Linked DNA regions of Homo sapiens: all the other regions are linked to region 1. Evidence: fine-mapped expression QTL. A gene starts in region 1. Each other region holds a variant in brackets. All regions are shown on one strand. Distances are from middle to middle.

What was found.
Region 2: its variant is fine-mapped to the expression of IFT52 in whole blood (TOPMed, PIP 0.95).
Region 3: its variant is fine-mapped to the expression of IFT52 in nucleus accumbens (GTEx, PIP 0.94).

What each region holds. Positions count from the first base shown.
Region 1 is chr20:43,586,976-43,594,975 of GRCh38, forward strand. It overlaps IFT52 (intraflagellar transport 52), which reads left to right and starts at 3,962. Exons shown (of 14, transcript NM_016004.5): 1 at 3,962-4,079; 2 at 7,718-7,842. The coding sequence starts at 7,724. RefSeq lists an enhancer at 4,084-4,153.
Region 2 is chr20:43,552,645-43,560,920 of GRCh38, forward strand. SGK2 (serum/glucocorticoid regulated kinase 2) reads left to right here and starts at 6,383. Exons shown (of 13, transcript NM_170693.3): 1 at 6,383-6,515. The variant T/C (reference allele first, on the strand shown) is at 4,252.
Region 3 is chr20:42,850,599-42,858,874 of GRCh38, forward strand. All of the region lies in intron 2 of PTPRT (protein tyrosine phosphatase receptor type T), which reads right to left. Among named protein-coding and RNA genes, the nearest start is that of PTPRT-AS1, 110 kb to the right of the region's middle. The variant G/A (reference allele first, on the strand shown) is at 5,062.

The DNA.
Region 1 (8,000 bases):
TTTGCTCTTGTTGCCCAGGCTGGAGTGCAGTGGCACGATCTCGACTCACCGCAACCTTCGCCTCCCAGGTTCAAGCAACTCTCCTGCCTCAGCCTCCTGAGTAGCTGGGATTACAGGAATGCGCCACCAGGCCTGGCTAATTTTGTATTTTTAGTAGAGACAGGGTTTCTCCATGTTGGTGAGGCTGGTCTCCAACTCCCGACCTCAGATGATCCGCCCACCTCGGCCTCCCAAAGTGCTGGGATTACAGGCGTGAGCCACCGCACCCAGCCAAGATTAGTCATTTCTAAAGATAATTCTGATCGGACAGAACGTGAGCGGTAACACCTCATAAATTCAGAACACCCTGCACTTGTGGGATGGATTGTGCTTCCTTACTTCAGTGGAAAAGTGGTTCGTTTCGGCTGGGCGTGCTGGCTCACACCTGTAATCCCAGCACTTTGGGAGGCCGAGGTCAGGAGTTTGTAGACCAGCCCGGCCGGTATGGTGAAACCCTGTCCCTACTAAAAATACAAAAATTTAGCTGAGTGTGGTGGTGCATGCTTGTAGTCCCAGCTACTCGGGAGGCTGAGACACGAGAATCACTTGAACCCGGGAGGCAGAGGTTGCAGTGAGCCAAGATCGTGCCACTGCACTCCAGCCTGGGCGACAGAGTGTGACTGTCTTATTAATAAATAAATAAATACGAAAAGTGGTTTGTTTTTTTACAAATGTGTGGTTCATACTCCTGGGTGGCCTTATTAGCTTTTTTGGTTGGGAGACAAGGGAAGGAACTTTCTTGGATCAGTGTGTGCTGGTGATTTTATTGCCTTTTCCTCTTAATTCAATCCCACTCTTTCCCTTCCTCAAGTCTTGTTCACCCAGCCTCCTGCCCCAGGAATCACGGGGAAGAAGTCTGGGAGACCACAGAAAAAACACCAATGACACTGAGCTATTAGAGATCAAAACTGGGTCAGGAAGAGTTCATGTTAAGCTTTCACATGTGCTAAGAACGCTGAAAGATACACACTGATTTCCATCTTAATAGTGCCAGATAATTGACAAATTTGGGACAAGATGAGGGAGAGGTCAAAATCCCCCTAACTTCCCAAAGCAAAAAAACAGGAGTATAATGATCAGAAACGTAATAGTAGTGTCAGAAGCACACAATCAGCTGTGGACGGTGAAACATATAATGGTTCTATCTGTTCTGAGATTGTAAAAGCACAATTATTTTCATCAGGATAAAAAATAAAAATGAAAAACTATGCTGTTGAATGGAACATGCTACAACCTATGTTTATTGAGCACATTCCAAGTTTTATATGCATTATCTACAATCCTCACTATAAGCCAGCATTTAGAAATTATGAACTTCAGACTGGGCGCAGTGGCTCACGCCTGTAATCCCAGCACTCTGGGAGGCCAAGGCAGGCAATTCACGAGGTCAAGAGTTCAAGACCAGCCTAGCCAAAATGGTGAAACCCCGTTTTTACTAAGAATACAAAAATTAGCCGGGCATGGTGGCGGGTGCCTGTAATCCCAGCTACCTGAGAGACTGAGGCAGGAGAATTGCTTGAACCCAGGAAGCGAAGGTTGCAGTGAGCGGAGATCATGCCATTGCACTCCAGCCTGGGCAACAGAGCAAGACTCAGTTTCGGCAAAAAAAGAAAGAAAGAAAGAAATTATTAACTTCGCTTTACAGATAGGATACATTTGCTCAGAGATTATGAAAACTGCCCAAGGTCACCCAGCTGGTACAAGTCACAGCGAGGAATTGAACTTGGTGACAACTACTGATTCTAAAAGTCTTACTCTTGCTTTTTTGGGGGGGGAAGCGGGGACGGAGTTATGCTCTTGTTGCCCAGGCTGGAGTGCAATGGCGCAATCTCAGCTCACTGCAACCTCTGCCTCCTGGGTTCGAGTGATTCTCCTGCCTCAGTCTCCCAAGCAGCTGGGATTACAGGCGGCCGCCACCACACCCGGCTAATTTTTTGTATTTTTATTTTTATTTTATTTTTTATAGAGACGGGGTTTCACCATGTTGGTCAGGCTGGTCTCGAGCTCTTGACCTCAAGTGATCCACCTGCCTTGGCCTCCCAAAGTGCTGGGATTACAGGCGTGGGCCACTGCACCCGGCCAAAACTCTTACTCTTTCTGCAATCTCTAACAGTGGGAGAAATGCTCTGGGCAGGTGCTGTAGCAAACACTGACTGCATATCAGGCAGAAAGATCCCAAGATTTGTCCCAGCCTTCAAATGGGACGGCCTACTCTCTCTTCAGTGAGAATACTTCATTTCCATTATTACCCTAACTGCAAACTGTATTCACCCAATTCTGCACCAAAATACAGCATCCCCAAGAAGAGAACTTTTTTTTTTTAAGAGACAGAGTCTCACTCTGTTGCCCAGGCTGGGGTGCAGTGGAGCGATCATGGCTCACTGCAGCCCGAACTCCTGGGTTCCAGCGATCTTCCCACCTCAGCCTCCCAAGTAGCTAAGACTACAGGTGTGTGCCACCATGCCTGGCTAATTTTCTTTTTTTATTTATTATTACTATTATTATTGGAGAGAAAAGGTGTTACTGTTACCCAGGTCCCAGACTCCTGGCCTCAAGCAGTCCTCCCACCTTGGCCTCCCAAAATGCTGGGATTACAGGCAGAAGCCACTTCATCTGACCAAAGAGAATTCTCAAATCACCCTGTTCTCCACTTTCTTTTTGAGACAAGGTCTCACTGTGTTGCCTAGGCTAGAGTGCGGCGGCACCATGACGGCTCACTGCAGCCTCAACCTCCTAGGATCAATCAATCAATCCTCCCACCTCAGTCTCCCAAGCAGCTGGGACTACAGGCGCGCGCCACCACGCCCAGGTAATTTTTCCTATTTTTAGTAGATACCGGGTTTCGCCATGTTGCCTAGGCTGGCCTCAAACTCCTGGGCTAAAGAGATCCACCTGCCTCGGCCTCCCAAAGTGCTGGGATTACAGGAGAGAGCCGCTGCGCCCGGCCCGTCTCCACTTTTAAAATTTCCAGTGACAGAAATTGTGGAAAGCAACACGAGTTGTATGTGTTTTAATATCCTAGATTCGAAGACAAACATAAATGTAAATAAAAACTGTCAGAGCTCTCTGCAATCTTCAGTTTGGGTCTTCCAGGCTGCTGCAGCGTTGTTCACAAATCCACACACCTCTAAAGGCAGGCACAGAGCGCTTTCCTGGGTAGTCGGGTGGCCTGTTGGTAGTTGCAGGCTTCTGGTTTCCCATCTTAATGGCGATGGCAGGGCAACCTGTATTGGTGGTGCTTTTGCACAAGCAGTTCTTTCTGCCGGGAACGCCCTTCCCCAGCCTTTGCCTTAATGAATACCACTCTCTCTTCAAATCTCTGCTCAACAGGGGCGCCTTTTTGACCAGCTTAGTCGTTAGACTCCCTAATACAGTTCATAGTTTTCACATTTTTGTAGAATCTATTCAAGTTCTAACTCCCCGCCATGCTCGCCGGCGCTCAAGCCTAGTACCATGGCAAGCAAAGATGCGGAGTTAATAAAACAGAATTATACGGTTTATCATTCTCAACACTAAACCTGCGCACCCTTTTCCGTTAAGTAGTTCCTAATAGTCCAGCACAGCCTTCCGCCCGGCCCCGCCCTCGCCTGGCTCCACTCTGCTCCTGCGCTTTGGGAATCGAAGCTGGGGCGTTCTCCAACCCCCCCGCGCTGGAAGCCTTCACTATTCTCCTCCCTGTGGGTGGAGCGAAGTTTGGGCACTTGGGTCCTACCGTTGTTATTAGTCTTTACTCGTAATTGATACTAAAGAACAAAATTAAATGGGTTTATTTTTGGTGAAAAGTTAATTCTCCTTATGTTTGGATTTGCCCCTCATGCACCAAATGGTACAGCCCCACATCAGTCAGGCTGCCTACCCCTGACGCCTGCGACGGAGAGGCGCCTTCCGTGCTGTCGTCATCACGTCGGCCGGAGCTAGCGCTGCGTCCTGGGCCACGCCTCCCGGCGCACCGACGCGCCTCTCCGGTTACTAAGCGGCCTTGGATACCTGGCCGCGGGATGCTGGGCGGCGTCAGGTGAGCGGTGGTCGCTGGGCCTCAGGTAAAGGGCGCCAACAGTGGTGGGCCGGCTGGGGCGTTGGTGCGGCCTGGGAGCTGGCGAGGGACTCGCCGCACTCTTCGAGGCCGCTGGGCCGGTCATAGAACATCCAGGGTCCCCCGGGGTGAAGTAAACTGTGGGCGCGGACGTAGCCCGGGTTCCTGGCGCCCCGGCTGGGCGCCCATCTCCACGGCCTCGGGTGGTGCAGGTGTTTAGTCGTTCCGCTGACTATGAAAGAGCATGGGACGAGGAATCGTACAGTCTTAATCTCTCTTCTGTCGTGGCTGCGACCCCTCGGTATTCATGTGGGAAAATACTGATTTGACTGGTAATGTTATTGAAGAGAAAGCGAGAGAATGGTTTGGCAGCGTTACCCAAATATTTGTTATTTTTATAGTTTTAAAGGCCTTATACTATTATTAAGGAAATGCATTTCTGGCTAAGTCTGACAGTACAGGAACGCAGACCTGCTACTCTCACCAGGGGCTGAACTAACAGAACAAAAAAAGATAGATGTATCACGGTGGTGGGACCATGGAGGGGGCAGTTTTTCAACTGGACAAAATGATGTTAAAGTGCTTAAAGAAGGATAAATATGTGAAAGTAGCCAGGAAAATTCTAAAATTAATGCTAATAAGGGAGATTAGCTCTCCAGAACCACCAGATATTATAACATAAAGGTATAGCAATTAAACTAGCATAGAAGATGGGTGCAGCAGTGTGGGCCCGTAGTCCTGGCTACTTGGTAGGCTGAGGCGGCAGGATCCCTTGAGCCCAGGAGTCAGAGACCAGCATGGGTATCAAAAGGAAACCCTGTCTCTGAAAATAAATAAATTAATTTAAAAAGTTTGGGACTCAGCAGGAGCTTACAGGTAGATAAAATATATTAGAACTCAGAATAAGAGCGATTTATATATAGGGATTTATTATATAGGCGAGGTGGTACTGTATTTCAAATCAGCATTGAAGAGATGAATTGGGGTCAGGCAGCTTTTTTAGCAATTTAGAAAATAATTAAACCAGTCGAGCGAGGTGGCTCACACCTGTAATCCCAGCACTTTGGGAGGCCAAAGCGGGTGGATCACTTGAGGTCAGGAGTTCCAGACCAGCCTGGCCAACCTGGTGAAACACCGTCTCTACTATGGCGCGCGCCTGTAATCCCAGCTACTGGGGAGGCTGAGGCAGGAGAATTGCTTGAACTTGGGAGGCGGAGGTTGCAGCGAGCCGAGATTGCACCACTGCACTCCAGCCTGGGTGACAGAGCAAGACTATGCTTTGAAAAAGAAGGAAAAAAAAAAGGAATGAAGCCCATTTTGAGCACCACAATAATTTCCAAATGGACTAAAATTTAAATGTTAAAAAATTACATCACGAATTAGCCGGGTGTGTTTGGGCGCCTGTAGTCCCAGCCGCTTGGGAGGCTGAGGCACGAGAATCTCTTGAATCTGGGAGGCAGAGGTTGTGGTGAGCCGAGATCGTGCCACTGCACTCCAGCTTAGGCCACAGAGCAGACTCTCTCAAAAAAAAAAAAAAATTACATCATGAAGTACTGAAGTAAAGCATTGTTGAATTTATTTATAATCTTAGAATGACAAAAAACTCTTCTAAGTGTTTCATGTCATCCAGAAGCCAGGAAGGAAAAGATTCATACTTTTAACTCTATAAAATTTAAAATCTATATGGCCTGCAAAATTCAACCAAACCAAAAAAACTACCAGAAGCCAAATAAACTTATGAAAATGTTTGTTTAATGATCAATTAGAAAATTATGAAACCCGACTGGGTGCAGTGGCTCATGCCAGTAAACCAGCACTTTGGGAGGTTGAGGTAGGAGGATCACTTGAGGTCAGGAGTTCAAGGGCAACATAGCGAGACCTTGCTTCTACAAAAAATTTAAAAATTAGCTGGACACTGGTGCGCGCCTGTAGTCCCAGCTACCCATGAGGTTGAAGTGGGATGATTGCTTGAGCCTGGGAGGTCAAGGCTACAGTGAGTTGTGATTGCAGCACTGCACTCCCAGCCTGGGTCACAGAGTGGGACTTTTATCTCAAATAATAATAATAAGAAGAAGTTTTTAAAAAGAAAAATTTAAAGAGAAAAATGATCAAGAGTACCTGGACAAGAAAATCAGAAGAAATACAAGTGGCAAAAATCTATAGCAAGAGACAACTATCTCACTAACTTCAAAGTGGAAATTAAAACAGTAATGAGGGGGGTTTTTTGGCCCTTTATTGGCAAACATGACAAAGACTGGAAATAGGATTGTGTGGAAACAGAAGGGTGTTAGTGGAAATATAAATGAGTATAACTTTTTGGAGGGCAATTTGGAAATGATTTACTCAGCCATTCAATAGATAAGAATCTCTACAAATATGCAAATTGCAGAAAAACATGTTGTTTAACATTGATGTTTTTAGTATTGTTTTAGAAAATATTTGATAAAAGATGTCAGCCAGTAGATGACTGGTTAAATAAATTATGGTAGATCCATAAAATGAATACTGTGTAGCTGTTTTTGTTGTTGTTGTTGTTTAAAGACAGGGTCTTGCTGTGTTCTCCAGGCTGGAGTGCAGAGTGGCGTGATTGTGGCTCACTGCAGCCTTAACCTCTTGGGCTCAAGCAATCCTTTCACCTCAGCCTCCCGAATAGCTGGGACTACAGATATGTGCCACCATGCCCTGCTAATTTTTTTTGTAGAGATGTGGTTTTATCATGTTATCCAGGCTGGTCTGGAACTGCTGAGCTCAAGCGATCCTCCCACCTCAGCCTCTCAAAGTGCTGGAGTTACAGGCGTGAGCCACTGCACCCAGCCCTGTGTAGCTGTTTAAAAGAATATGGTAGATCCATGTGTACTGACAAAGAAAGATGTCAAATATACAAGGTTAGGTGAAACAGGTGTTTCAGAATAATGCATATGGTAAGATCCTATTTCATAAAATAAAACTGTAAGTTAATATATGTATAAAAAGAATCTCGAGCTGGGTGCAGTGGCTCACACCTGTAATCCCAGCACTTTGGGAGGCCAAGGCAGGTGGATCATGAGGTCAGGAGTTTGAGACCAGCCTGACCAACATGGTGAAACCCCGTCTCTACTGAAAATACAAAAATTAGCTGGGCATGGTGACACGTGCCTGTAATCCTGGCAACTCAGGAGGCTGAGGCAGGAGAATCGCTTGAACCCGGGAGATGGAGGTTGCAGTGAGCCAAGATCACACCATTGCACTCCAACCTGGGAGACAGAGCAAGACTCCGTCTCAAAAAAAAGAAAAATAGAATCTAGAAGACTATACCCTGCGCTTAACAGTAGTTAGCAGTAATGAATCAGGATGGAAACATGGTCTTGGGACACAAGAGCAGGGTGATGGCAGGGCAGAGCCATAGGTGTAGGCTGTTGGGAGGATCTGGGCAAGAGGCAGAAAGCAAAAGCGGGTAGGGGAGGGCTGGGTTGGTTTTGGTCTTAGGTTTCTGTGCTATGCTTTTGCATTTCACTCTCAACCTTTGAGAATTGTAGGAGTTTCCTAGATAGGTTTCAGTTGTATACCCTTTCTTGATAAATTAGTAGTAGAAGGCAACTATTTATTACTTTTAGGGTCTTTGGAATATTGTTTATTGATTTTCTGATCCCATCTTTCTTCCATAAGGTAACCATGGAGAAAGAGCTGCGGAGCACCATTCTTTTCAATGCCTACAAAAAGGAGATATTTACCACCAACAATGGCTACAAATCCATGCAGAAAAAACTTCGGAGTAATTGGAAGATTCAGAGGTGACTGACCATGTATATTGTTTTCCCTTCTAAATGATATTGTCCTGCTGATAAAGCTGAGAAGTCTTTATTTTCTTAGGTAACATAGATTGTTTAGGTGGGAGAAGCTCAATTTAAAGATTATTCAGAATTAGGTCTGGCGTGGTGGCTCACACCTG
Region 2 (8,276 bases), 34 kb before region 1:
AGAGAGAACCGAGAAAACAAATTATATCAAAAACAAACAACAAACTTGTATACTGAAAACAATAAAACATTGCTGAAAGAAATTCAAGAACACCTAACTAAATGGAAAGAGATCTGTGTTCATGGCTAGGAAGACTTAATATTGTTAAGATGTCAATATTACCCAAAGATATTTACATATTCAATGCAATCCCTATCAAAATCTCAGCTGATTATTTTTTTCTTGCAGAAATGGAAAGACAGATCCTTAAATTCCTATGGAATTGCATGAGGCCTCAGATAGCCCAAACAATCTTAATAAAGTATAACAAAGTTGAAGAACAAACCGATTTCTTTCTTTCTTTCTTTTCTTTTTCTTTTTCTTTTTTTTTTTTACAGAGTTTTGCTCTCGTTGCCCAGGCTGGAATGCAAAGCCACAATAATCAAAACAGTGTGTTACTGGCATAAGGACAAATAGACCAATAGGATGGAATTCAGAGTCTAAAAACAAGTCCATATGTCCATAACCAATTGAAATTTTTTTTTTTTTTTTTTTGAGACAGAGTCTCGCCCTGTTGCCCAGGCTGGAGTGCAGTGGCGCGATCTTGGCTCACTGCAAGCTCCGCCTCCCGGGTTCACGCCATTCTCCTGCCTCAGCCTCTTGAGTAGCTGGGACTACAGGTGCCCGCCACCATGCCCGGCTAATTTTTTGTATTTTTAATAGAGGCGAGGTTTCACCGTGTTAGCCAGGATGGTCTCGATCTCCTGACCTCGTGACCCACCCGCCTTGGCCTCCCAAAGTGCTGGGATTACAGGCGTGAGCCACCACGCCCGGCCTAACCAATTGATTTTCAGTAAGAATGCCAAGTCCATTAAATGGGGAAAGTACAGTTTCTTCAACAAATGGGTCTGGGGTAACTGGATTTATACTTGTAAAAGAATGAAATTGGATACCTACCTCACCCCATATTCAAGAATTAACTCAAAATGGATTGATGACCTAAATATAAGAACTAAAACTATAAAACCCTAAGAAGAAAACATAAAGGTATATCTTCATGACCTTGGAATTGGCAATGAATTCTTAGCTATGGCACCAAAAGCATAAGCAACAAAAGAGAAAATAGATAAATTGAACTTCATGGCTGGGCACGGTGGCTCATGCTTGTAATCCCAGCACTTTGGGAGGCCGAGGTGGGCAGATCATAAGTCAAGAGATCGAGACCATCCTGGCCAACATTGTGAAACCCCGTCTGTACTAAAAATACAGAAATTAGCTGGGCGTGGTGGCACACGCCTGTAGTCCCAGCTACTCGGGAGGCTGAGGCAGGAGAATCGCTTGAACCCGGGAGGCGGAGGTTGCAGTGAGCCGAGATCTCGCCACTGCATTCCAGCCTGGGCAGCGGTGCAAGACTCTGTCTCAAAAAAAAAAAAAATTGAATTTCATAAAAATTTAAAGACTTTTGTGCATCAAAGGACATTATCAAAAAAGTGAAAAGCACCTACAGGATGGAAGAAAACATTTGCAAATTTTACAAGGGTTTAACATGTGGAATATATAAAGAACTCCTAAAACTAAGCAACAAAAAGCCCAGTTAAAAGATGGGCAAACAACTTAAATAGATATTTCTCCAAAAAAATACATACAAATGGCCAGTGAGCCCATGAAGAGTTGCTCAACATCATTAGACATTAGGGAAATGCAAATTAAAGCCACAATGAGATATCACTTTCTACCCATTATGATGGTTATAATTTTTTTAAAAAGGAAAGTAAAACGGTGAGGCTGTGGAGAAATTGGAACCCCTGTACATTGCTAGTGGAGACATAAAATGGTGCAGCTGCTATGGAAGAGAGTTTGGCATTCAAAGCGTGATGTAGGCTGAAAAAAAGAGTTTGGCAGTTCCTTCAAAAGCTAAGCATAGAACTATCACATGATTCAGCAATTCCACTCCTGGTATATACCCAAAAGATTTGAAAACATACTTGAATGCCTATGCTCATTGCAGCATTATTCACAGCAGCCGAAAGATGCAAACAACCCATGTCATCATCAACAGAAAACAAAATGTGGTCTATCCATTCAGTGGAATCTTAATTCAGTCAAAAAAGAATAAAGTTCTGATACTTGCTACAACTGGATGAACCTTGAAAACATGCTAAGTGAAATAAATGAGGCCGGGCGCGGTGGCTCATGCCTGTAATCCCAGCACTTTGGGAGGCCGAGGTGGGCGGATCATGAGGTCAGGAGTTTGAGACCAGCCTGGCCAACATAGTGAAACCCTGTCTCTACTAAAAATACAAAAAATTAGTTGGGAGTGGTGGCAGGCGCCTGTAATCCCAGCTACTTAGGAGGCTGAGGCAGGAAAATCACTTGAACCCGGGAGGGGGAGGGTGCAGTGAGCCGAGATCGCACCACTGCACTCCAGCCTAAGCGACAGTGCAAGACTCCGTCTCAAAAAAATGAAAAACAGACACGAAAGAACAAATATTCCACACATATGAAATATCCAAAATAGGCAAATTCATAGAGATGGAAAGCAGATTAGAGGTTACCAGGGACTGTGAGGAAGGGGAAATGTGGAGTCATTGCTTAATAATTACAGAGTTTCTCTTTGGGGTGATAAAAACAGATTTTTTATTAATTAAATAGATAATGATGATGTTTATACAACATCATGAATATACTTAATGACACTGAATTGCACACTCAAAAAATGGTTACAATGGCAAATTTTATATTTACCACAATAAATTTCCCTTTAAAAGAGGAAGACATAGGATCCAGGAAGCAAGACACACCAAGGAAAGAGACAAAGGGGATTTGCAGGCCAGTCACCGGTGGCTCACGCCTGTAATCCCAGCACTTTGGGAGGCTGAGGCAGGTGGATCTCTTGAGGCCAGGAGTTTGAGACCAGCCTGGCCAACATTGCAAAACCCGTCTCTACTAAAAATACAAAAAAGTAGCTGAGTGTGGTGGTGCGTGCCGTAATCCTAGCTACTTGGGAGGCTGAGGCAGAAGAATTGCTTGAACCTGGGAGTGGGAGGCTGCAGTGAGCCGAGATTGTGCACTCCAGCCTGGGCGACAGAGAGACTCTTACTTCAAATGAAAAAAAAAAAGGCAGAGGTGGGGACGGGTTTCCAGAGTGATGGGAAAGGAAGGGCCAGGTTCACCTCTGGACAGCTGTCTAGGTGAGAGTAGGAGGATGAACGGCTCTAAGAAAAATGGGGGGAAGAAAACAAACTGAAACTGGTATATTAATGTATCAAGAGGATATTTTAGCTTTATCAGAGAGTTATATACACATAATTATATATAATTCTCTAATAATTATATATATTGAATATGTTCAATTTCTAAAACCAAATGAAGCAACTATAAATTCAGGAAAAGCTGAAATGTGTGTTTGGAGGGGCATAATCTAAGCATTCATGTTCCATAGTAGGAAAGAAGCCACTTGAAAATGTTTTAAACTGAAAAATGGAAGAATAACAGTATAAGGCTATTAAGATACATGGAGGTAAATACCAAAGAAAGCAGCTTAAAAAGATGAGGAATGGGGCAAGGAACTGATCTTTTTCATTATTTGATTTTACACTTTGTACAATTATCACTTTCTAAAAATGTTTCCAGAAGGCAAACTGGGGCCCATATCTGGGCTATGTATGAGCTCTGTTGCCCAAGAGTCTGTTAGCCCATGTGGGTAATAGATTTTTCTCTGGTGGCCCTGTGTCTGTTATTCCCTTTGCCTATGGGTGAATCTGCAGGTGGGGCTGGGGGTGGGAATAGGGCTGGAGCCAGACTAAGGACAGAAAAGTGGGCTGAGGAATGTCAAAGTGAAGGGAATATTTCTGGAGGTAGATTTCCATTGGTTAAGTCTCTTGCTTTTCCCTTATGCCTGAGAACATGACTTTTACCTTCATACCCAAACAACAAAGTCCAGCCAGGGAGGGTGGGAGGGGAAAGAAGGAAGAGAGGAAGATGGGAAGGAGACGCATATCTGCAGTGGCCTATCTACACATATCTGCACGAGTGACCTTGGCTATTTCCTGCAGTATCACTGGGGGGAAGGGCAAGTTCAGCACTGCTGCTAGCCACGTTGGTTGGCACAACTTGTTACAGTCATTTGGTAGAGAGTTCATAATTAACCCAGCACTCACACTTAACAGGAGTTCATCTGTCAGAAATACTAGCGGAAGGCCACAGGATATTAAAGCAGAGATGTTTGCTGCAGCCTTGTTGGAAATATTGTGAAACTGCTAACAGTCAAAA[T/C]GTCCATCAGAAGGAACAGTAAATAGGGAATAGGGGTTGTGAAAACTCCACACTATGAAGTGTGGTGCAGCTGCTTAAAAGATGTATATATGAAAAAAAGTGAATTACTGATGGCCCATTTTCTGGAAAAAAAATGGATGCAGTTATATAGATTAATACATATAGATTAAGATTAATATACATATAGATTAAGACATAGACAAAAATCTGGAAGGATTGTCACCCTTTTTTTTTTTTTTTTGAGATGGAGTCTTGCTCTGCTGCCCAGGCTGGAGTGCAGTGGCATGATCTTGGCTCACTGAAAGCTGCATCTCCCAGGTTCATGCCATTCTCCTGCCTCAGCCTCCCGAGTAGCTGGGACTACAGGCACTCGCCACCACGCCTGGCTAACTTTTTGTATTTTTAGTAGAGATGGGGTTTCACCATGTTAGCCAGGATGGTCTCGATCTCCTGACCTCGTGATCCACCCACCTCAGCCTCCCAAAGTGCTGGGATTACAGGCATTAGCCATGGCGCCCAGCCGGATTGTCACCCTTTAGTTAACAGCAGCTGCCTCTGGAAATGAGATTGAAGATGGGCTGGAGGGAAAGCTTTTACTTTTTATTTGACATTCTTCTGTAAGTTGGAATTATTTGATACACTTTATGCAACCAATACCAGTATGTGGCGTGTTTGGGGGTTTTTTAAGCAGCTCTGGAAGAGCAGAGGAGAGGGAGCTTGGTGGCACAGCAGCAGCAGCAGCAGGAGCTCTGGAAAGGGCAGGACCTTGTGCGCTGCCCTGATTTGCTCTGTGCACTTGGGCCAGCTACCTCCCCTATCTGGACCAGGGCCAGACACATGCTGCTATGTGTGTTGGTGGAGGTGGGGTGTGTGGCCATGCAGGGCTCCTCCGGAGCACAGCAGAGCAGCCGGTGTTTAAGGCACCAGAATTACCAGAAAGTTGTTGACATTTTAATGGAAAGGCAATGGAGGAAGCAGTGTGAAAGTCAGCCTGCTCAGGAGGGGTCACTGGGCAGAGCTTTCCTTACCTGTCCAGGGGTCCAGGCCCTGCCTGTGCCCTGAGTTAGAACCCAGGGCCGGCCAGGCGCGGTGGCTCACGCCTGTAATCCCAGCACTTTGGGAGGCCGAGGCGGGCAGATCACAAGGTCAGGAGATCGATACCGTCCTGGCTAATGCAGTGAAACCCCATCTCTACTAAAAATACAAAAATTAGCTGGGCGTGGTGGTGGGCGCCTGTAGTCCCAGCTACTCGGGAGGTTGAGGCCGGAGAATGGCGTGAACCTGGGAGGCGGAGCTTGCAGTGAGCTGAGATCACGCCACTGCACTCCAGCCTGGGTGACAGAGCGAGACTCTGTCTCAAAGAAAAAAAAAAAAGAACCCAGGGCCTGGGAAGCTTTGGGTCAACCCCCGAGAAAGCCTTCCCTGTTCTCCAGGGTGAACTCATCTCTGGTTCCTGAGCCTCAAATCTCTGAAGGGCAGAGTGGGGCATAGGTTTCAACTCAGCTGTGATTCTCCCAGAACGGTGCCAGGGCAGTGCTTGGTCGGGTAGGCTGTGGGTGGCAGTCTTCGGCTTAACACAAGAAATTGCCAGAGGCTGGCTCAGGGGGAAATGAGCTGCCCAGTCCTGGAAGTTTCCATGAAATGACTGAACATAGGGGCTGGTGGCCCCCATTAGGGAAGGGGTGGAGGAGGGTGTTGTGTGAGACCAACCTTTCAGTTGCTGGTTCACTAGGTTCCAAGCGAAAGGGAAGATGACTCAGCGGAGGGAATCAGGGAAGGCTGTGTAGGAGTCAGCACTTAAGCTGGACCTTGAGAGAGTGCGGCAGTTCCAGTGTTGAAAGGGACTTCAGAAACCGTCCCTCCAGCAGGACACACCATCCGTCACCAATTCACATGAGGCTCAGGGAGCTGAAGTCAGTTGCCCATGGTCACATAACAAGTTGTGCTTTAAAAAATTCAGAGAGTCCCCCAGGCAGGGCCCATCCAGGAGCCAGTGTGTGCAGCCAGCTTGGTAATTCAGGTCCAGTGGTTAATTAGTAACTGGAAGGCCCCGAAGCCAGCTTCCAGCAGGCAGGGCTGGGAGGTTGAACTTGAGCCGGTTTGGGAGCCAGGAGCGAGTGGGTGACAGGTCATTCCTGACTGGGAAGGTTGCTTGACAAGTCAGGATTGTGCCTCCAGTCAGAAGGACCATGAAGAGAGAGAAGAGGGCAGAGCCGTGCATGGGGCTGCTCCCCAGGACCTGAGCAGGAACCTGGAGTTTTCAGGTGAGAGGCTCACCTGTGAGCAGGATACCTGCCTGCTCGCCTATTGGTCTCCAGATTGACTAGTTACCTAGCTAACATCTTTCCTAGTACCTGTTTACTTTCTTTCCTTCCTTTCTTCCTTGGCGACTTCTTTCCCTTCTCCCTCCTTCCTTTCCTTCCTTCCCTCCCAACTATCTGCTTTCTCAGCTGCCTAATTTTCTTCCTCCTTAACTAACCAACTTACATCCTCACTTCCTTCCCACTGACTTCATTTTTTCCTTTTCTAGCTTTCTATTGTCTTCCTGAAATTCCAGGCCGTGGGCTTTGCAGTCAGATGGCCTGGGTTCAAATCCTGGTTATGTCATTTATTAACTGTCTTGATCATGTCACTTCCCTGTCCTTGCCTCAGTTTTCTCCTCCTTGAAACAGGGACGATGATAGTTCCTAACCCGTGGGGTTGTGGGAACAAAATAAGATCAAGTTGGCACTTGAACTGGGCAGGCGTGTAAATGAACAAGTTACAGTGAAGACAGGGACAGCAGCAGGAGAGGGTGCATGGGATCGGAGGGTCATCTGGCTTCCAGGAAAGGCAATGAGAACAGGTGAAAAGGTGAGCTGGAAAGACCAGGTTTGTTGGGGAATGTTCCAAGGAGAGAGAACTGTGTGACACTGTCCCACCCCCACACCCCATTTGGCAGGGCCAGGGAGCTGTAAGCAGGTCCATGTAACAGTGGGACAGAGGGAGGCAAGTCTGGGCTGTGGCAAGTTAGGAAAGGGACAGGCTTGAGGACTCATGGAGGGGCTTGAGTGGGAGTTTGCGGAGTCTGAAGAGTTAGGAGAATATATTGATGTCCAGCTTCTGGCCAGAAAATTAGAACACCGTGGTGCGAGAGAGAAGAAAGCCTTAGGAACTGAGGGCTGCTTAGGCATGGGGGTCACAGTCAAGGTGATGGGGGAGGGTGTGATGGGCCATGGGCATGCCAGGTTCCCACCAGGAACTCAGTACTTGAATATTAACTCAACAGCAATATCTTGAGAAGCTTTACACAATAGTACAAAGATAAAAGTTAAAATAACCGGCCGGGTACAGTGGCTCACACCCGTAATCCTAACACTTTGGGAGGCCGAGGCAGGCGGATCACCTGAGGTCAGGAGTTTGAGACCAGCCTAGCCAACATGGTGGAACCTCGTCTCGACTAAAAATACAAAAATTAGCCGAGCGTCGTGACACATGCCCGTAATCCCAGCTATTTGGGAGGCTGAGACAGGAGAATTGCTTGAACCCAGGAGGCGGAGGTTGCAGTGAGCAGAGATTGCGCCACTGCACTCCAGCCTGGGCGACAGAGCGAGACTCCATCTCAAAAAAAAAAAAAAAAAGTTAAAATAACCTAACCTAAGAACCCGCTGTGACCTTGGGTCATGACCCTGCAGTCTTTTTTTGGCAGCTGTGCTCACAAATGTGTACGTGCAGACATGTCTTTTGTTTTTCTTTTACAAAATTGGTACCCCTACAACACCTACTATTTTGAAACTTGGTTTTTTGCTTGATATTGTATCACATGTATGTTCCTGTTTTGGTTTATATAGGTTTTATATAGTTTTTGGTTGTGTAATTTTCCACTTTATATATGTACCAACATTTATCAATTCATTTATTGATTCATTAGTCAAATTGTACTGGGCATCTACTATATTCCAGGCCCTGTGCTCAGTGCTGAGGATTCAATAGTTGAACAGGAAGTATTTGCCCTCCTGGAGCTGATGTTCTAGTTGGAGATAGAA
Region 3 (8,276 bases), 740 kb before region 1:
TGTTCAGTTGCTATACACCCACTGCACTGCAGTGTCAACCCCAAAGGCAGTGGCACTTACACATTCCTTTGTGAGGCCAGCTGCTGGTTTAACCCATGGCCAGGCCTGGTCCTTTTTCTCCAAGCAACAGGGAAGGTGCTTAGAGGCCCATGGGCTTATCTGCAAAGCTATTTTCCTGGAGCTCACTTTGGAGCATCCCCTCCTGACCATGGTAGTGATTTGAGATCAGGTGTCTTCAAAGAGCAGCCCTTGGACCAGTCTACCTCCTGACGCCCTTTCTTCTCATCAGATGGAAAACTCACAGATGGGAAAAAACAAGCTGATTACCCGGGTCTCACTCCCCACAGACATCTTCCATCTTTGGTCCTCATTAGGGCTCTTGGTAGCTGGCTCGTTGCTAAGTCAAACTTGCAAGGCACAGTTTTTCTGCCACTTCTTTAGATCTGCACTTAATTACAGCTGTTCCTTCCTGTTGGCCATTCTCCACTGTTTCAAACATCCAAGATACTAGTCTTCTAATGTTCTTATCCTCTCATTAGAGTTGAACATTTTGTTCTTGTCTTACATCTATTCTGTTCCCTGCACAGCTCAAGAAGTACTTGAGTTTTTGCCTCTGCTTTTATGTTGCATAATAAATAGCATTCTGCCTGGTGTGACACTGAGAATAACTGAGTTACTACTTTCTATCAAAAGTATCTAAAGATCCATGAAGACTCACAAGGCTCCTTTCTGCTGTTAAAAGACTGTGCTTTTAACAACGCTGATTTCTATTATTCTTAACTTTATTAACTCTAATCTTACTCAACTCTAATCATCACTGTCTTGCATTTCTCCCTTTCCAATCCAATTCTTGATCCATTATAGGCATCTATAATTATAATACCTCCCTGCCTACCTGGGGTATTCCTTTTACTCTCAAAAATGTCCCTATTGAAACAAAAATAAATATGTCACCCCAACCATAGAGAATAAGATGTTTCCTGTTTATTTGCTATTGCTTCAGCTCAAGTTCCTGCTCTCCATGTGTCAAAGCAGGGGTCAGCAAATATTTTTCGTAAAGAGCTAGATAGTAAATACTTTTGGCTTTGCAACCATATCGTCTCTTTTGCAACTACTCAGTTCTGCCATGGTGGTGCAACAGCAGCCGCAAGCAATACGTAAATGAATGGGTGTGGCTATGTTTCAATACATTTAATTTACAAAACAAGCAGCAAACCAGATTTGGCCTGTACACCATAGTTTGCAATCTATGCTTATGTACGGACTGAGATAATGATCTGCCTTTCCCTCTAAAAAGCTGATTTTCCTAACAGCATTAATTATATAATCTATTATTTCCCAAAACGATTTAAGTCTACCATTATCACATAGTAAGTATTTACATAGACACAAATCATTTTCATTATCTTATTTTGTATTCTGTTTCAATTACATTTTATTTCACTAGCCACTAAATTGCTTATAGTATTAAGTTATTTTATAACTCTCTGTAACTTTTTGCTGTGCAAATCTCCCTTCTATTAAGGGACAAAATGTCCCTTTTGCCATTCTTATGCATTTCATCTTCTATCCAAACTTTACAATCATTTTTGTCAAGTTTTAAAAACATAAATATGTAATCACTTTGGGGGAGAATTGACATATTTATATGAATACACGTTTCCATTCAGAAACATGATATTTTTCCAAGTATTCAAGTCTTCTTTTATGTGCCTCTGTGTTAAAGTTTTCATGTTGTTCCTGCATTTTTTTTATCTTCATCCCAAGCTTTAAAAGATATTCTGTCCTGTTATGATTGGGTTTTTCTTTGCTCTATATATTACAATTTAAAAACTGCACATAGAAAAAACCTGCTAATTTTTTTTTAGAAATTTATTTCGTATCTGGTCCCTAAAACCTCTTGCTAATGCCAATGGGTTCTTCTTTGATGCCTCCTTCATATATTTTTTTAGAATACTAATCACACTTGTTCAGAGGGCTATGTCCTTTGATTTTCAGAGCCAGAGTATTTTTTCTTTTCCATCAGTTTGAGGATTTTTCTCCACTGGCTCATCCTAGAGATACAGCCTTCATTCATGGATTCTGTTCCCCACCAAGCCCAGCCTAGATACCTCCTCTATTTCACAAACCCTCTCATCTGACCTATCAACATGCCTTCTAGTTAGTGAGGCTTGTACTAATTTTACAGTGCTTGGGTGCAGAAGAGAACAGACTGAGAGGTAGGTGGGGCTGCAGAAACCCACTGGGAAACCTAGACCTCCCTAGAGAGTGAACACAAGTTCACTCAGAGTGGCCAAGAGAATATGACAAATGCAGGTTCCACCCAGGTTGCTAGCATACTTGAGGAGTCAAAGATGGTGGTGGAGCTGCCCAGCAAAGATGTTCAAGTGAAGGCATCAGGAGATGGGGATGCTGAGAGTCAGAAGCTAGATGATGAAGCAACAGCTTTGCTGCATTTCAGGATAAGAGCAAAGAAGCTAAATCTCAGGCACCCTTTGGTCTGATATATCTACATTAACTCAGCATTGTCAGTGCCTTTTAGCTCATGTGGCTTGGCCCTGAGTATTTTGGTCTCATTCAGGAATCACCATCTTAATCAAGAAAACTAAGCAGAAGCCTCATATGAAGAACTTTGTATTAGTTAAGGTTCTCCAGAGAAATAGAACCGACAGAATATATAAAGATATATAAGAGGAGACTTATGGAAATTGGCTCATGCAATTATGGAGGCCAGGAAGTCCCCCAGTATGCTGTCTGCAAGCTGGAGAATCAGGAAAGCCAGTGGTATAATTTAGTTCAAGTCCTAAAGCCTGAGAACTAGAAGAGGTGATGGCTGATGGTATAACTCTCAGTCTGAGGCCAAAGTCCTGAGAACCCAGGATGAGAAGGTGTAAGTCTGGAAGTCTGATAGCCCAACAACCAGAAGCTCCAATGCCCATGCATAGGAGAAGAGTCCTAGCTCAAGAAAAGAGAGAAAAAATGAACTCCTCTGCCCTTTTGTTCTATTCTGGTGCTCGAACGATTGGATTAAGCTTGCCCACATTGGTAGACTTCTTTACTAAGTCTTCTGATTCAAATGCTAATCTCATCTAGAAACACCCTCACAGGCACACCCAAAATTAATGTTTTACCAGATATCTGAGCATCCCTTAGACCAATCAATTTAACACTCAGAATTAACCATCACAACCTTGTATACGTTTTCCTCAGAATGACTGCATGCCAGGATTGCGCCAGCAGGCTGACTTTAATCACTACTATCTTGAGAGATGGGCTCCTAAAATACAGCAAAGTTGAGCTGGATCTGAATAGACTAACCCCGTGGCTGAGCAAATCTGGGCAGGACCAGATGGAAAATGGGCTAATTCTGTACCACCCATTATCAAATCACATATATGTCTAGATCTGTGTCAACAAATCCTTTCCAACCCACCAAATCAAATCATTGGAGTAGAACTGGGGAGACCTGCAGTACCATTACGGCTCACAATACCTCGTCACAACATGACTCTGGATCTCCTTATACCCAGAGTGTTTCTGTCTGGAGAGTAGGATGTAATGGTGACATTCCATCTTCCTTTCCATACGTACCCATTTGTTTCCTTTTATTTGTTCATTCATTCGTTCATTTGGCAAATACTTACCAAGCCTACTGTCTGGCAGGCACCTTACTAGGTACTGAAAATAGAGACAGGAATAAGGAACTCTATCCTTGAAGCACACATCCTATTCACGCATGGTTTAAGGAGGCCAAGACATAGCAAGTTTGAACACCTTGACAAAGGAAAGAAACTAGGGAGGTACAACCAGAGTTTAATCAAGGACTGTTTAACTTACCACACCTGCTATCACTCAGAATTCTCACAGGAAGCTTCCCTAGGCACACTGTGACAGAATGGGTGGGGGAAACTCTTCCTAACACCACCTGACATGTGCCTTGCACCCACCACAGGCATGGTACCTTGAAGCAGAGTAACAGACCAGTCAGATGATCACATCTCCCTCACCTATAGAGACTCATGATGATGTCTTACTGCCTAGGAAACAGTACAGTAGCTAAAGCAATCACTGGGGGAAAAAATTCTGAAATCTCTAAGCATTGCTCATTAGCATAAAGCTTGGAGAGGTCTGATAAAGTTCATGGCTTATCTCCAAGCCTGCTTGCTTCCTCTCTGCCCAGAGCAGCAGCTGGGCAAGGGATTGCCTTCTTTGCAAAGAAGCAAATTAAATTAAATTAGATCAGTTATACCAGCACCACCAACAGCAGAAGCATCTTCAATAAAATTAAGATCTCGAAATGAAAACAAGGAAATCATCTTCTAAAAACCTAATCCCATTGCCCAGTTTGAAGGCGCTCACTACTGAGACCTCCTGTGGCAACTTTACATGAACATTTGGGAGCAGGGAACTAGGGGAGACCTGGCAGCATCGTTGGGTAACCCAGGATCTGGGCCTTTTGTTTGTTGTTGTTTTAGTCTTAGGGAAGCACATATCCAATCACACACTTGATATATAAATAGGCCATTTCAGTGAATACAGTCATTGGAAACCTTTTCCAATAAGAGCATGTCATACTGGCTATGAAAGAGTGTATTTATAATCACACAGCATGGTATAGTGGAAAGAATGCCAGGTATTCCAGAAAATATGGTGGTTTGCACACCATTTCACAGAACCTCCATCTTCAAAGTTGACTGAAATGAACAAAATGAATTAAAATGAACAACAAAAATATTATTAATTCTGAAACTCAGAAACTGCCCCAACCTCATGCTATAGGTTTTAAGTGCCACCTGGGCCAAAATGAAAGAAGAGTAATCTATGTTCATGCTTTTTTTTTTTTTTTTTTTTTTGGAGACAGAGTCTCACTCCACCCAGGCTGGAGTGCTGTGGTACAATCTCGGCTCACTGCAACCTCCACCTCCTGGGTTCAAGGGATTCTCATGCCTCAGCCTCCCAAGTAGCTGGGATCACAGGAGTGCGCCACCACACCCAGCTGATTTTTGTATTTTTAGTAGAGACATGGTTTCGCCATGTTGGCCAGGCTTGTCTAGAACTCTT[G/A]ACCTCAAGCAATCTGACCACCTCAGCCTCCCAAAGTGCTGGTATTACAGGCATGAGCCATCGAACCCAGCCCATCCTCCCTTTCAAGATGGAAAAGTACTGTTGGCAAGGAAAAAAAAAATGTGTAATGGACAGAAAAGCTGAATGATATAGCTCCTAATTTGAAGAGAACAAATTGGAAAGGTGTGAATATTCCACTTGGAGCTCGTTTTTCCCATTTTGGATTGACTCCTTCCCTAAATCCCTTCCCAGAGCCATTCTGGGAATTATCAGGCAGAAACCAGTTATCTCATATGAGGACTCAAATGGGCAAAGACAAGAAAATGAATGGGTTTAGAAAAACAAACGACAAAAGTCCATGAAACAGAAGGACCTCTCATTAAAGCAGCTGACTCATTTTGAAACAGGTGAGCAAACTGAAGCTTTAGGGGACCACCCACCCCAGGAAGAGGATCAACTGACAATTCAATAGACCTAAATCTAGTGTCAGAATTTCAATAAATTTAGAGACAGATTAGAGACAAAGCCCCCAGAGGCTTTTTGCAAGTCCTCAGCAATTTCCTCTCCCATAAGAGAGCAGTCAAACTGTAACCAAGTAAATTGGGAAAATAGCAAAGGCAAATTCAGCATTACCAATTTGGATCAAATAACACCATCAGGTAACTGCCCCCACTGATATAGTGGTCAAGTAGAGGGGGAAAAGTACAAGACTTAAAGGAAGATTGTGTGTCCCCCACAGTAGGTTTCACACGCAAAGATTTTTTTTTAAAACTCACCCTGGAAGAAGAGATGCTCCAGGAAACATAAATAGATCACTGCTTTGTAATCCCAGGAAAATTAAAGAGAATTTAAGCTCTACGAAACAAGCAATTAAAGGGTGAGAAAACATGACAGTTGTTCAAGACCGGGAGTGTATCAGCTTCTCGACAACACCCCCAGGTTCCCCCAGGGTTGTCTTCTGGGCAACCTCCCAGGTACTGTCCTCTCATCAATACTAGATCCGCTGCAGTTCCTGAACATGTGACGGCACAGTATGTAAAAATGCATATACTATTAGGGCTGGAGGACCCTCATCTAGTCATCGTCAATGACAGGACAATAAAAACCAAGTTCACGTATTTATTAAGTGGCAAAGCTATAGCTTAGACCCCAACCTGACCCTACATGTATAAAGAGGAAAGAAGAGGGATGAAGATAGGATGTTGGGAGGGAAAAAGGAGGAGAAAAAAGGGAGAGAAAATGGAAGATGGAAGCAACAGCTGGGGTGCAGTAAAAAGGGGCACTGGACTAGCCAGAAAACCTACCATGAATCAAATCTGAGTACATGCCTTCAATTTCTGGGGCTACATGCCCAACAAACAGAATTGTTGGGTCACATAGTCACTTGATGTTTAAATTTTGAGAAATTGCCAACTGTTTTCCACATTAGCTGCACCATTTGGCATTCCCATCGGCAATGTACAAGGTTCTAATCTCTTAGCTCTAGCACTCACTATGTTGCATGACTCTGAAAAAGTCATTTTATTTATCTGAACCTCACTTTCTTTTTCTCTAAAGAGTAGGGGTTAGAACTAGCTATCCTGTTTCTGCCTATTCACACATTCTTTCTTTCCATCCAAATCCTGACCTTCCACTGCCCACATCTGTTTCCAAGAGTTTCCTGACAGTGTGAAGTACTGTAATGAGTAAGTCCTAGCTCTGCTCCTTAGAGCTAGAATTATCTTAATCCATATCCCCAAGTTATATTAATGCACTTCCATTTCCATCCATATCTCTCAGCGTACATTTTTTCTCTCTTGTCTATTCTTTTAACCTTTTTGCAAGCATCATCTTGTTCTGTCTGTCGGCTGTCAGCTTTTCTCTCCGAGCTTCTGCGGAGTTGCCAGATTCTTGACTATTTCCCCACCCTCAGCTCATAACTGTTTTTCCCTGGAGCTCAGCGACTGCTAAGTGGTCTTTGTGAAATCCTATTAGGATAATCTCCCTGTCTGTGTCTCCTCTCAGCTGGGCTGCCTCTAGAAACCTCAGCTGTCTTCCTACTCACAATCGGCAAATCATAGGCTGGCTCCTGAGTCATCCAACATCGTACTTATTCACAAACATGCTTAGATGAGCTCTGAACCTGTCGAATCTTGTAGCCCACAAGCAAGAGTTAAATTCACTGGAGATTCAACTCATATGTCTTCTCCTGCAGAAGGTGTCTCCTGTTTATGCGGGACCCCTATTCCCTCTACAATCCCAGGAATGACACCTGCCCCCTTTTTACTTTTTCTGTTTCTGTTTATGTTTATCATCTATCTCTCTCATCAGACTGTGAGATTCATGAGAGCAAGGAGCTGGAGTATCTTGTCCAAAGCTGTATCCTCAGTGCCTGGCATATTACAGGCCCTCAGTACATGTTTGTTGAATTCATGAATACGTGTTCCTCTTCCATAGAGTCAATCATGGATCTGCCTACCTGTCTACCTATTAGACCCAAAGCTACTTTGGGGCAGACTGAGATTTACCTGCCATGGTAACACTTGTTAAAAATAAAATTACTCTGACACTTGTTAAAATGGTAAGGAAGACATTATTCAAGATTATTGCAATGGAGGAGAGAAATTAGGCAAATATAACAAAGACAGCTGGGGATTTAGAGCCAAGGAACAGAGTGAGTGGATGAAAAATTACCAAGAGGAGACAAGGGTAGGGAGATTCTTGCTAAAACAACTTACCAGGGTTCTTACCGAAGGCAGGCCAGGATGATCAGATAGTGCTATCATCCGAATGTTTGTGGAGGCCAAAACTCGTATGTTGAAACGCTAACCGCCAAGGTGATGGTATTAAGCGATGAGGACTTTGGGGAGATGAATTAGGTCATGAAGGAATGGGATTAGTGTCCTTATAAAAGGGACCCCAGAGAGCTGCCTTGCCTCTTCCATCACATGAGGACACAACTAGAAGGTGTCATTTTTTAATGAAGAGAGATCTCACGAGATATGGAATCTTCTAGCACCTTGATCTTCAACTTCCCAGCCTCTACAACTGTGAGCAATAAATTTCTGTTGCTAAGAATTAGTTTATGGTACTTTTTTATAGAAGCCCAACTGGACTGACAGATGTCAAGGGGTTGGGGGATCCTCAGTAGGCTAACCTAGCAGAGTTCTTGCTAAAACTGGGCTAGACAGGCCACAGACAAGATAGCCAAAATCAAAGCCTAGTTGAGAAGGGAA